2 separate regions of the Homo sapiens genome follow, and region 1 is linked to region 2. Evidence: fine-mapped expression QTL. A gene starts in region 2. The other region holds a variant in brackets. All regions are shown on one strand. Distances are from middle to middle.

Evidence for each region. PIP is the estimated chance that this variant, and not a neighbour inherited with it, causes the effect.
Region 1: its variant is fine-mapped to the expression of PUF60 in whole blood (TOPMed, PIP 0.97).

The regions. Positions count from the first base shown.
Region 1 is chr8:143,919,092-143,924,449 of GRCh38, reverse strand. It overlaps PLEC (plectin), which reads left to right. Exons shown (of 32, transcript NM_201384.3): 31 at 1-1,946; 32 at 2,055-5,358. Among named protein-coding and RNA genes, the nearest start is that of PLEC, 18 kb to the left of the region's middle. The variant C/T (reference allele first, on the strand shown) is at 2,679.
Region 2 is chr8:143,827,356-143,832,645 of GRCh38, reverse strand. It overlaps PUF60 (poly(U) binding splicing factor 60), which reads left to right and starts at 3,331. Exons shown (of 12, transcript NM_078480.3): 1 at 3,331-3,366. The coding sequence starts at 3,343. LOC107986985 (a long non-coding RNA gene) reads right to left here and starts at 3,366. Exons shown (of 3, transcript XR_001746138.2): 1 at 3,242-3,366; 2 at 2,608-2,800; 3 at 715-1,937. It also overlaps a transcript of NRBP2 not described here. RefSeq lists enhancers at 2,040-3,239, 2,560-3,259 and a silencer at 3,044-3,613.

The sequences.
Region 1 (5,358 bases), 92 kb before region 2:
AGCGGGCCGAGGCGGAGCGGGTGCTTGCGGAGAAGCTGGCCGCCATCGGCGAGGCCACGCGGCTCAAGACGGAGGCGGAGATCGCGCTCAAGGAGAAGGAGGCGGAGAACGAGCGCCTGCGGCGGCTGGCGGAGGACGAGGCCTTCCAGCGGCGGCGGCTGGAGGAGCAGGCCGCGCAACACAAGGCTGACATCGAGGAGCGCCTGGCCCAGCTGCGCAAGGCATCGGACAGCGAGCTGGAGCGGCAGAAGGGGCTGGTGGAGGACACGCTGAGGCAGCGGCGGCAGGTGGAGGAGGAGATCCTGGCGCTGAAGGCGAGCTTCGAGAAGGCGGCCGCTGGCAAGGCGGAGCTGGAGCTGGAGCTGGGACGCATCCGCAGCAACGCGGAGGACACGCTGCGCAGCAAGGAGCAGGCCGAGCTGGAGGCTGCGAGGCAGCGGCAGCTGGCGGCGGAGGAGGAGCGGCGGCGCCGTGAGGCTGAGGAGCGCGTGCAGAAGAGCCTGGCGGCCGAGGAGGAGGCCGCACGGCAGCGGAAGGCGGCGCTGGAGGAAGTCGAGCGGCTGAAAGCCAAGGTGGAGGAGGCGCGGCGCCTGCGGGAGCGAGCGGAGCAGGAGTCGGCGCGGCAGCTGCAGCTGGCCCAGGAGGCCGCCCAGAAGCGGCTGCAGGCGGAAGAGAAGGCACACGCCTTCGCGGTGCAGCAGAAGGAGCAGGAGCTACAGCAGACGCTGCAGCAGGAGCAGAGCGTGCTGGACCAGCTGCGCGGCGAGGCGGAGGCGGCCCGGCGGGCGGCTGAGGAGGCGGAGGAGGCCCGGGTGCAGGCGGAGCGTGAGGCGGCGCAGTCCCGGCGGCAGGTGGAAGAGGCCGAGCGGCTGAAGCAGTCGGCAGAGGAGCAGGCACAGGCCCGGGCTCAGGCACAGGCGGCTGCAGAGAAGCTGCGCAAGGAGGCCGAGCAAGAGGCGGCGCGGCGGGCACAGGCGGAGCAGGCGGCCCTGCGGCAGAAGCAGGCAGCTGACGCGGAGATGGAGAAGCATAAGAAATTCGCCGAGCAGACGCTGCGGCAGAAGGCGCAGGTGGAGCAGGAGCTGACAACACTGCGGCTGCAGCTGGAGGAGACCGACCACCAGAAGAACCTGCTGGACGAGGAGCTGCAGCGGCTGAAGGCGGAGGCCACGGAGGCCGCACGCCAGCGCAGCCAGGTGGAGGAGGAGCTCTTCTCGGTGCGCGTGCAGATGGAGGAGCTGAGCAAGCTCAAGGCACGCATCGAGGCTGAGAACCGCGCACTCATCTTGCGTGACAAGGACAATACGCAGCGCTTCCTGCAGGAGGAGGCTGAGAAGATGAAGCAGGTGGCGGAGGAGGCCGCGCGGCTGAGTGTGGCGGCCCAAGAGGCTGCGCGACTGCGGCAGCTGGCAGAGGAGGACCTGGCACAGCAGCGGGCCTTGGCAGAGAAGATGCTCAAGGAGAAGATGCAGGCGGTGCAGGAGGCCACGCGACTCAAGGCTGAGGCGGAACTGCTGCAGCAGCAGAAGGAGCTTGCGCAGGAGCAGGCGCGGCGGCTGCAGGAGGACAAGGAGCAGATGGCGCAGCAGCTGGCGGAGGAGACGCAGGGCTTCCAGCGGACGCTGGAGGCCGAGCGGCAGCGGCAGCTGGAGATGAGCGCTGAGGCTGAGCGCCTCAAGCTGCGTGTGGCCGAGATGAGCCGAGCCCAGGCCCGCGCTGAGGAGGACGCCCAGCGCTTCCGGAAGCAGGCGGAGGAGATCGGTGAGAAGCTGCACCGCACGGAGCTCGCCACCCAGGAGAAGGTGACCCTGGTGCAGACACTGGAGATCCAGCGACAGCAGAGTGACCATGATGCCGAGCGCCTGCGGGAGGCCATCGCTGAGCTGGAGCGTGAGAAGGAGAAGCTCCAACAGGAGGCCAAACTGCTGCAGCTCAAGTCTGAGGAGGTACCGCCCCCTCTACGTGCGACGGGCGGGTGGGCCCGGGGATCTGCTTTGGTGGGTGATGGGTGCTCCTGGGCTGGCGGTCCCTGATCACACCCTCTTCTTCTGCAGATGCAGACGGTGCAGCAGGAGCAGCTGCTGCAGGAGACGCAGGCCCTGCAGCAAAGCTTCCTCTCTGAAAAGGACAGCCTGCTACAGCGGGAGCGCTTCATCGAGCAGGAGAAGGCCAAGCTGGAGCAGCTCTTCCAGGACGAGGTGGCCAAGGCACAGCAGCTGCGTGAGGAGCAGCAGCGGCAGCAGCAGCAGATGGAGCAGGAACGGCAGCGGCTGGTGGCCAGCATGGAGGAGGCGCGGCGGCGGCAGCATGAGGCCGAGGAGGGCGTGCGGCGCAAGCAGGAGGAGCTGCAGCAGCTGGAGCAGCAGCGGCGGCAGCAGGAGGAGCTGCTGGCTGAGGAGAACCAGAGGCTGCGTGAGCAGCTGCAGCTCCTGGAGGAGCAGCACCGGGCCGCGCTGGCGCACTCAGAGGAGGTCACTGCCTCGCAGGTGGCTGCCACAAAGACCCTGCCCAATGGCCGGGATGCACTTGATGGCCCCGCGGCAGAGGCAGAGCCGGAGCACAGCTTCGATGGCCTGCGGCGGAAGGTGTCAGCTCAGAGGCTGCAGGAGGCCGGCATCCTGAGTGCGGAGGAGCTGCAGCGGTTGGCGCAGGGCCACACCACGGTGGACGAGCTCGCA[C/T]GGCGGGAAGACGTGCGCCACTACCTGCAGGGCCGCAGCAGTATCGCAGGGCTGTTGCTGAAGGCCACCAATGAGAAGCTGAGTGTTTACGCCGCCCTGCAGAGGCAGCTGCTGAGTCCCGGCACGGCCCTCATCCTGCTGGAGGCGCAGGCGGCCTCAGGCTTCCTGCTGGACCCTGTGCGGAACCGGCGGCTGACCGTCAACGAGGCTGTGAAGGAGGGTGTGGTGGGCCCCGAGCTGCACCACAAGCTGCTGTCGGCCGAGCGCGCCGTCACTGGCTACAAGGACCCCTACACTGGCCAGCAGATCTCTCTCTTCCAAGCCATGCAGAAGGGCCTCATCGTCCGGGAGCACGGCATCCGCCTGCTGGAGGCCCAGATCGCCACGGGCGGCGTTATCGACCCCGTGCACAGCCACCGCGTGCCCGTGGACGTGGCCTACCGGCGCGGCTACTTCGACGAGGAGATGAACCGCGTCCTGGCGGACCCCAGCGACGACACCAAGGGCTTCTTTGACCCCAACACGCACGAGAACCTCACGTACCTGCAGCTACTGGAGCGCTGCGTGGAGGACCCCGAGACGGGCCTGTGCCTTCTGCCACTCACGGATAAGGCTGCCAAGGGCGGGGAGCTGGTCTACACTGACTCCGAGGCCCGGGACGTCTTTGAGAAGGCCACCGTGTCTGCGCCGTTCGGCAAGTTCCAGGGCAAGACGGTGACCATTTGGGAGATCATCAACTCGGAATACTTCACGGCAGAGCAGCGGCGGGACCTGCTGCGGCAGTTCCGCACGGGCCGGATCACAGTGGAGAAGATCATCAAGATCATCATCACGGTGGTGGAGGAGCAGGAGCAGAAGGGCCGGCTTTGCTTTGAGGGCCTGCGCAGCCTGGTGCCAGCCGCCGAGCTGCTGGAGAGCAGGGTCATCGACCGCGAGCTCTACCAGCAGCTGCAGCGAGGTGAGCGCTCTGTGCGAGACGTAGCCGAGGTGGACACTGTGCGGCGGGCTCTCCGGGGTGCCAACGTCATCGCGGGTGTATGGCTGGAGGAGGCGGGGCAGAAGCTGAGTATCTACAATGCCCTGAAGAAAGACCTGCTGCCATCCGACATGGCCGTGGCCCTGTTGGAAGCCCAGGCCGGCACCGGGCACATCATCGACCCCGCCACCAGCGCCCGGCTGACCGTGGACGAGGCAGTGCGTGCTGGCCTGGTGGGCCCCGAGTTTCATGAGAAGCTGCTATCAGCCGAGAAGGCTGTGACAGGGTACAGGGACCCCTACACAGGGCAGAGCGTCTCCCTGTTCCAGGCCCTGAAGAAGGGCCTCATTCCCCGGGAGCAGGGCCTGCGCCTGTTGGACGCCCAGCTGTCCACGGGCGGCATCGTGGACCCCAGCAAGAGCCACCGCGTGCCCCTGGATGTCGCCTGCGCCCGAGGCTGCCTGGATGAGGAGACCAGCAGGGCCCTGTCGGCACCAAGGGCCGACGCCAAGGCCTACAGTGACCCCAGCACAGGGGAGCCGGCCACCTACGGCGAGCTCCAGCAGCGGTGCCGGCCCGACCAGCTGACCGGGCTGAGCCTGCTGCCGCTCTCAGAAAAGGCTGCTCGGGCCCGGCAGGAGGAGCTCTACTCAGAGCTGCAGGCCCGTGAGACCTTTGAAAAGACCCCGGTTGAGGTCCCCGTGGGTGGCTTCAAGGGCAGGACGGTGACGGTGTGGGAGCTCATCAGCTCTGAGTACTTCACTGCGGAGCAGCGGCAGGAGCTGTTGCGTCAGTTCCGCACGGGCAAGGTCACCGTGGAGAAGGTCATCAAGATTCTCATTACCATCGTGGAGGAGGTGGAGACCCTGCGGCAGGAGAGGCTGTCCTTCAGCGGCCTCCGTGCCCCTGTGCCAGCCAGCGAGCTCCTGGCTTCCGGGGTCCTCAGCAGAGCCCAGTTTGAGCAGCTCAAGGACGGCAAGACGACGGTCAAGGACCTTTCGGAGCTGGGCTCCGTGCGGACGCTGCTGCAGGGCAGTGGCTGCCTCGCCGGCATCTACCTGGAGGACACCAAGGAGAAGGTGTCCATCTACGAGGCCATGCGCCGGGGCCTGCTGAGAGCCACAACGGCTGCGCTCCTGCTGGAGGCGCAGGCGGCCACTGGCTTCCTGGTGGACCCCGTGCGGAACCAGCGCCTGTATGTCCACGAGGCCGTGAAGGCGGGCGTGGTGGGCCCCGAGCTTCACGAGCAGCTGCTGTCTGCCGAGAAGGCCGTCACCGGCTACAGAGACCCCTACTCGGGCAGCACCATCTCCCTCTTCCAGGCCATGCAGAAGGGCCTGGTTCTCCGGCAGCACGGCATCCGCCTGCTGGAGGCCCAGATCGCCACGGGCGGCATCATCGACCCCGTGCACAGCCACCGCGTGCCTGTGGACGTGGCCTACCAGCGCGGCTACTTCAGTGAGGAGATGAACCGCGTCCTGGCGGACCCCAGCGACGACACCAAGGGCTTCTTTGACCCCAACACGCATGAGAACCTCACGTACAGGCAGCTGCTGGAGCGGTGCGTGGAGGACCCCGAGACGGGCTTGCGCCTTCTGCCACTGAAAGGGGCGGAGAAGGCTGAGGTGGTGGAGACCACGCAGGTGTACACTGAGGAGGAGACAAGAAGGGCATTTGAAGAGACACAGATCGACATTCCCGGCG
Region 2 (5,290 bases):
TTAGATATGCATACACATAAACATCTCAATGCTTTACAAAGCAGTATTGCTGCCCGCAGGTCCCACCTCCAGCCCTAAGGCGGTTTTTCCCTATCTCAGTAGATGGAGCATGCAATCAGGTTTTATATGGAGACATTCCATTGCCCAGGGACGGGCAGGAGACAGATGCCTTCCTCTTGTCTCAACTGCAAGAGGCATTCCTTCCTCTTTTACTAATCCTCCTCAGCACAGACCCTTTACGGGTGTCGGGCTGGGGGACGGTCAGGTCTTTCCCATCCCACGAGGCCATATTTCAGACTATCACATGGGGAGAAACCTTGGACAATACCTGGCTTTCCTAGGCAGAGGTCCCTGCGGCCTTCCGCAGTTTTTGTGTCCCTGGGTACTTGAGATTAGGGAGTGGTGATGACTCTTAAGGAGCATGCTGCCTTCAAGCATCTGTTTAACAAAGCACATCTTGCACCGCCCTTAATCCATTCAACTCTGAGTTGACACAGCACATGTTTCAGAGAGCACGGGGTTGGGGGTAAGGTCATAGATTAACAGAGTCTCAAGGCAGAAGAATTTTCCTTAGTACAAAACAAAATGGAGTCTCCTATGTCTACTACTTTCTACACAGACACAGTAACAATCTGATCTCTCTTGCTTTTCCCCACAGTCTTTATGCTAACCTCACATATGCTTAACAGTGCGACTAGCTACAAAAAGCTTGGCTTGGTTGAAAATCATTTATTCCCAGGATTTCAAGGGTATTGTGTCATTTTCTTCTAGTTCCAAGAACTCTTGTGCCTTCCTGAATTCTGACTCTTTACCTATGATCTCTTCTTTTTCTTTGCCCCATTACTTGGGTAATTCTCAATGATGTGTCTTGATATACAACTTCCCTTTCACCCATTGTTCAGAAAACATGACTGTTTGGTTCTAGGAAATTTTCTTGATTTATCTCTGCTGATTTCTCTCATTTCCTTATTTTCTGGACAATTTATTTAGATGTTGGACTTCTGTTGAGTTTTTGTTGTTTTTTTGAGACAGGGTCTGGCTCTGTCACCCAGGCTGGAGTGCAGTGGTGTGATCACAGGGCACTGCAACCTCCACCTTCTGGGCTCCAGCAATCCTCCCACCTTAGCCTCTCTAGTAGCTAGGACTACAGGCGTGTGCCACCATGCCCAGCTGGTTTTTTAAAATTACTTTTTGTAGAGACGTGGCCTCACTATATTGCCCAAGCTGGTCTTGAACCCCTGGGCCCAAGTGATACTCCTGCCTCAGCCTCCTGAAGTGCTGGGAAGGCAGGCATGAGCCACTGTGCCTGACCTGGACTTCTCTTTTGAGATGCAGTCATGGTGGTGGCAAGAACACAGGCTCTGGAGCCATTCTACTGCTGCTCCCTGCCTTGTGATGTTGCCCATCAGTAAAAATGGGGTAACAGCTGTATCCATTGCATAGCACTGGGTTGTGAGGATCCCATGAATGAATGTGTGTAAGAACAGTCCTGGGCACCATGCATCCTGCGTGCACATTATTGCCAAGGGAAGCTGTCCCCAGAGGGTGGTGCCTGTGGCTTCCCCTGGTGGTGGTGGCAGACCAGCCCCCCACCTCCCATCCACCCCCTCCATTGTGGAGGCCTTGTGTGCCAGGCTAGCCCTAAGAGCACCCACCTGTGTTACTGCTATTCTGTTTTCCAGCTATCTGGTTCTGTCATTATACATTCTGGAAGACTTCATCTTAAAAGCCTATTGAATTGCTCACTTTCCCCTCATGTTTTATTTCTAAGAGCTCTTTCTCATCCCGAGGTTTCTTTCTCTATAGCCCCCAGTTCCTTTTTATTGACTGAGAATGGCATTTTAGTTTTCATTTTTCTTCGGCTTCCTTTATCGTCTCTGTTTCTTCTGAGTCCCTTTTCTTCTTTCTCAGGTGTCTGGTGATCCTGGGCTGTCCAGCTGCATTGAAGAGTGAGATGCTTTTAGTGGCTGGGGCTTATGACCTGGTGAGCTTCGAGGCCAGGGATCTGGCTGGGCCATTCTACTGGGCAACACTCTACCCCTAGGTGCCCTGCCAGTCTTTTCTTTTGAGCTAGGAGCTGCTGCAGAGAGGAGCCCTCTTCTCTGAGAAGCCTGATGGCATGCGGGTGGTCAGACCCAGCCCAGGGGTGGAGGCAGGGGTAGGACCCAGAGTCTCACTTACTCCCAGGCTTTCAGACAGGGCCTTGCTTGAGCAGGGCCTCAGAGCTCCTCTCCTGGAGCTCACGTCTCAGACACTGCAGTGCCTGCCAGCCCCGGTGGGTAGGGACAGAGGTCTGGGGTTTCCTTTCTGTAGCTGTGCTTTCACCCACGACCCTCAGACACTGGCCTCCATAGCCAAGTGGGCTGGAGTAGCTCTCGCTGTCCACCTTTCTTAAGCTCTGCAATATCCCAGCTCTTTGCCCTTGCAGGGTTTGTCTTTATAAAACCCCTTTCCTATAATTTTGGAAGGTTTCAGGAGGGAGGCGGGGAATATTCTGCCCTATTTAAGTAGAAGTGTCTGTATTAAATTCTAAATGTTCCCAGGGTTGAAAGGAGGCCTGCCCGGGATGCCTTGTGGCCTTAGGCAGCTGAAGGTGCCTGAGCTTACAGATGTGGCTTCTTCGGATGACCGAGTTGGGGTCTCGGGACTGGGTGCAGCAGATGGCAAATGTCCAGGACAGGCAGCTTTCCCAGCAGTACTGACAGACACCTTGGGCCATGAAAGCCAGTTCAGGGACTAACGGGGCCTGCGGGCTGCGGGTCTAGCGACTGATGTCAGCCAACCTAGGGTCATCGGTTCCCTGGAAGGAGAAAAAGCTGCCAATTGAACGGGGCCTCCCGGTCCCAGGGATGTCGCGACGCGGGGACGACGCATCTCACGACGTCAGCCTGAAACACGCGGGCCTTTCATCACCCGAGACTCCTCCAGCCCAGGAGGGCCCCGCTCTTTCGCCTGCCTCCTGGGGGAGAGCCTCTGGACGACGCACGCGACAGCGTTTTCTCCAAAAAAGGCAGAGAAGAGAAGCGTAGCAGTGGCCGCAAGGGCGACGGGCGGCGAAGGGTACTACGCACGCCCGCGTCGGCCACGCGGAGAGATACGCCCGACTCGAGTCCCGCGGCGCACGCCCCTAGACGCCCGAGGTGCGCGGGCCACGCCCCTCGCCCGGCCAAGAGCACGCCCCTTCCGTCGCCCCTCCCGGGGGCGTTTACCGTTCCTCCCCGCCCCGGAAGCGCGTTCTTACCTCCTTCCTCGCGAGAGTTCCGTGCACCGGCACCCAGATCGCGCGAGACAGCGGAAGGAGCAAGAGTGGGAGGCGCGCGCGGAGGCCGCGACGGACGCAAGATGGCGACGGCGACCATAGCTCTCGTAAGTGAGCCCCCCCATGAGCGCGGGCGGCCCTCGGCTTGCGGGGCCGGGTCGTCGACCCAGCCTGGGCGCGGAGGGCCTCCCAAGAACGCGGCGGTCTTCCCAGGTCCCGCGCGGACTCCCTCGTGTCCCCGGGTCGCGTGAGGCGGGGGCGGGGCGGGCGCGCGCCGGCGGCCGGCTCGCGGCCTCAGCTTCCGGCCTGCGGACCCCAGCTTCCGGCGGGGCGGGGCGGGGGCCTGGGCGCGGCGTGTGGCCCTTGCGGGCGAGCCTGGCGGGGTTGCGTTCCTGTCCGCTAGGTCCGGCAAGCGGGGGTCGTCGTCCTCCCTTTGCCGACGGGGGTGTGCGCCGTGGTCACGACGGAAGCGGGGTTCTGGGGGTGACGCGTGGGCCTTCGGGTTGATGGGATCAGAAGGGGACGGGACCTGTAGAAAGGGGCCTGCAGCTCAGAGCATGGGGCGGCCTTGGCTCACTACGCCTGCAGCTGTGAATTCGTTCTCCGGTGCTGGAGAGGGATCTGGTTATCTCCATTCTCTTGTCTCCACGTGGAAAGGAAGGACGTGCGCTCTCATCCTACGTGTTTTGAGAAATCGCATTGTCCCCAGCTCTGCGGGAGGATCTGGGGACGCAGTGGGGAACCAGACAGGCAGTTGGAGGTCTAGTGCGCACCAGAAGCCAGTTCCCACCCAGGGTGCCATTTGCTGGGCGCCCTAGGGAGCTGCGTGGGCATCCAGAGGAGTGAGTCGCCCCCTGCTCTGCTCAGTGCCCACTTCCCCGGGCAGGGCAGGCGTTATTAACGTAGAGGGAGAACACCCATGCACACAACACATGCACGATGAAGTCTGGTCTTTCCTTCTCACCACTTAGCTTATAGGACCTAATCCCCTTTTGGACCTTTCTCAGCCGCAGTTTACCCCTGTATTACTTGTCACCCTTCCCCCAGCCCACACCCAGCGGGATGGGATAAGGTCTGTTTGAGAAGACAGCTTGGGCAAATGGCTGAAGGCTGGACTGGCAGGACCAGGGAGTGTCCTTAGACTGCCATTGCCAGGCCCCCAGCGGGCGGGCTGGTCCCATGTCCCACTGAGGCAGAAACCAGTTACTAGGGGGAGAGAGGCATTTACACAAGATACCCAGCTTGCGAGGGCAGCCCAGTGTGTGATTCACAGGACTGGCTAACTCCACTCTTTCTACTATGTCCTTTCTCTTGAAGCCACAGGAGTAAGTGACCTTTGAGGGGCACTCCAGAGAGAAAGGATGTAAGGGTTGAGGACCTGGTGACTGTCTTCAGGCAGCAGTCAGAGAGTTGATGGTGAAGGAGGAGGAGGCTCAGAGACAAGGACTGGACATGGGAAGGTGGAGGAGGAGAGTGGATGCCTGACTCCCCTAGCACCCGCAGAACAGCGCCCTGTGCTCATGAGGGTTAAATGGGGGCTCAGGTCTGCTGTGGCGTGGTGCCAGATAGGTGGTGTCATTGTTGAGTTGGACGTGGGCCATAACTGACCCCACGAACGGGTTGTCTGTTGGGGTGTTTGTTGCCATCCAAATTCTGTTGGGTTTAATACGTGTTTTTTTATCGTCAGGTTTCAGGCTTGCATCCGGCTCCAGGAGTGAGCTGTAGCCTGTGGTCTAACCCATTCCTCTTTTAATCATTGGGATGGAAAGGCTTCTAGAAGGGTTATCTGTTCCCACCGTCCTGGTTGGGCACAGTGATGAGAGCCTGTCCCCTGTCTCATGCTGCTTCAGCTCTCATGGGAGGTTGAATGGAGCAGCTGAACTTGGCTGACAGTGGCCTGGTGGGGAAGGAAGCCAGAAGATGCAGAAGGGCCTCCCCTCCCATGGGCATGCCTTCTGCCTGGTGGCTGCAGAATGAGGCCGGCTGCCTCTTTGCAGCAAGGGTAGGTCTTCTGGATGCATCTTTTCACTT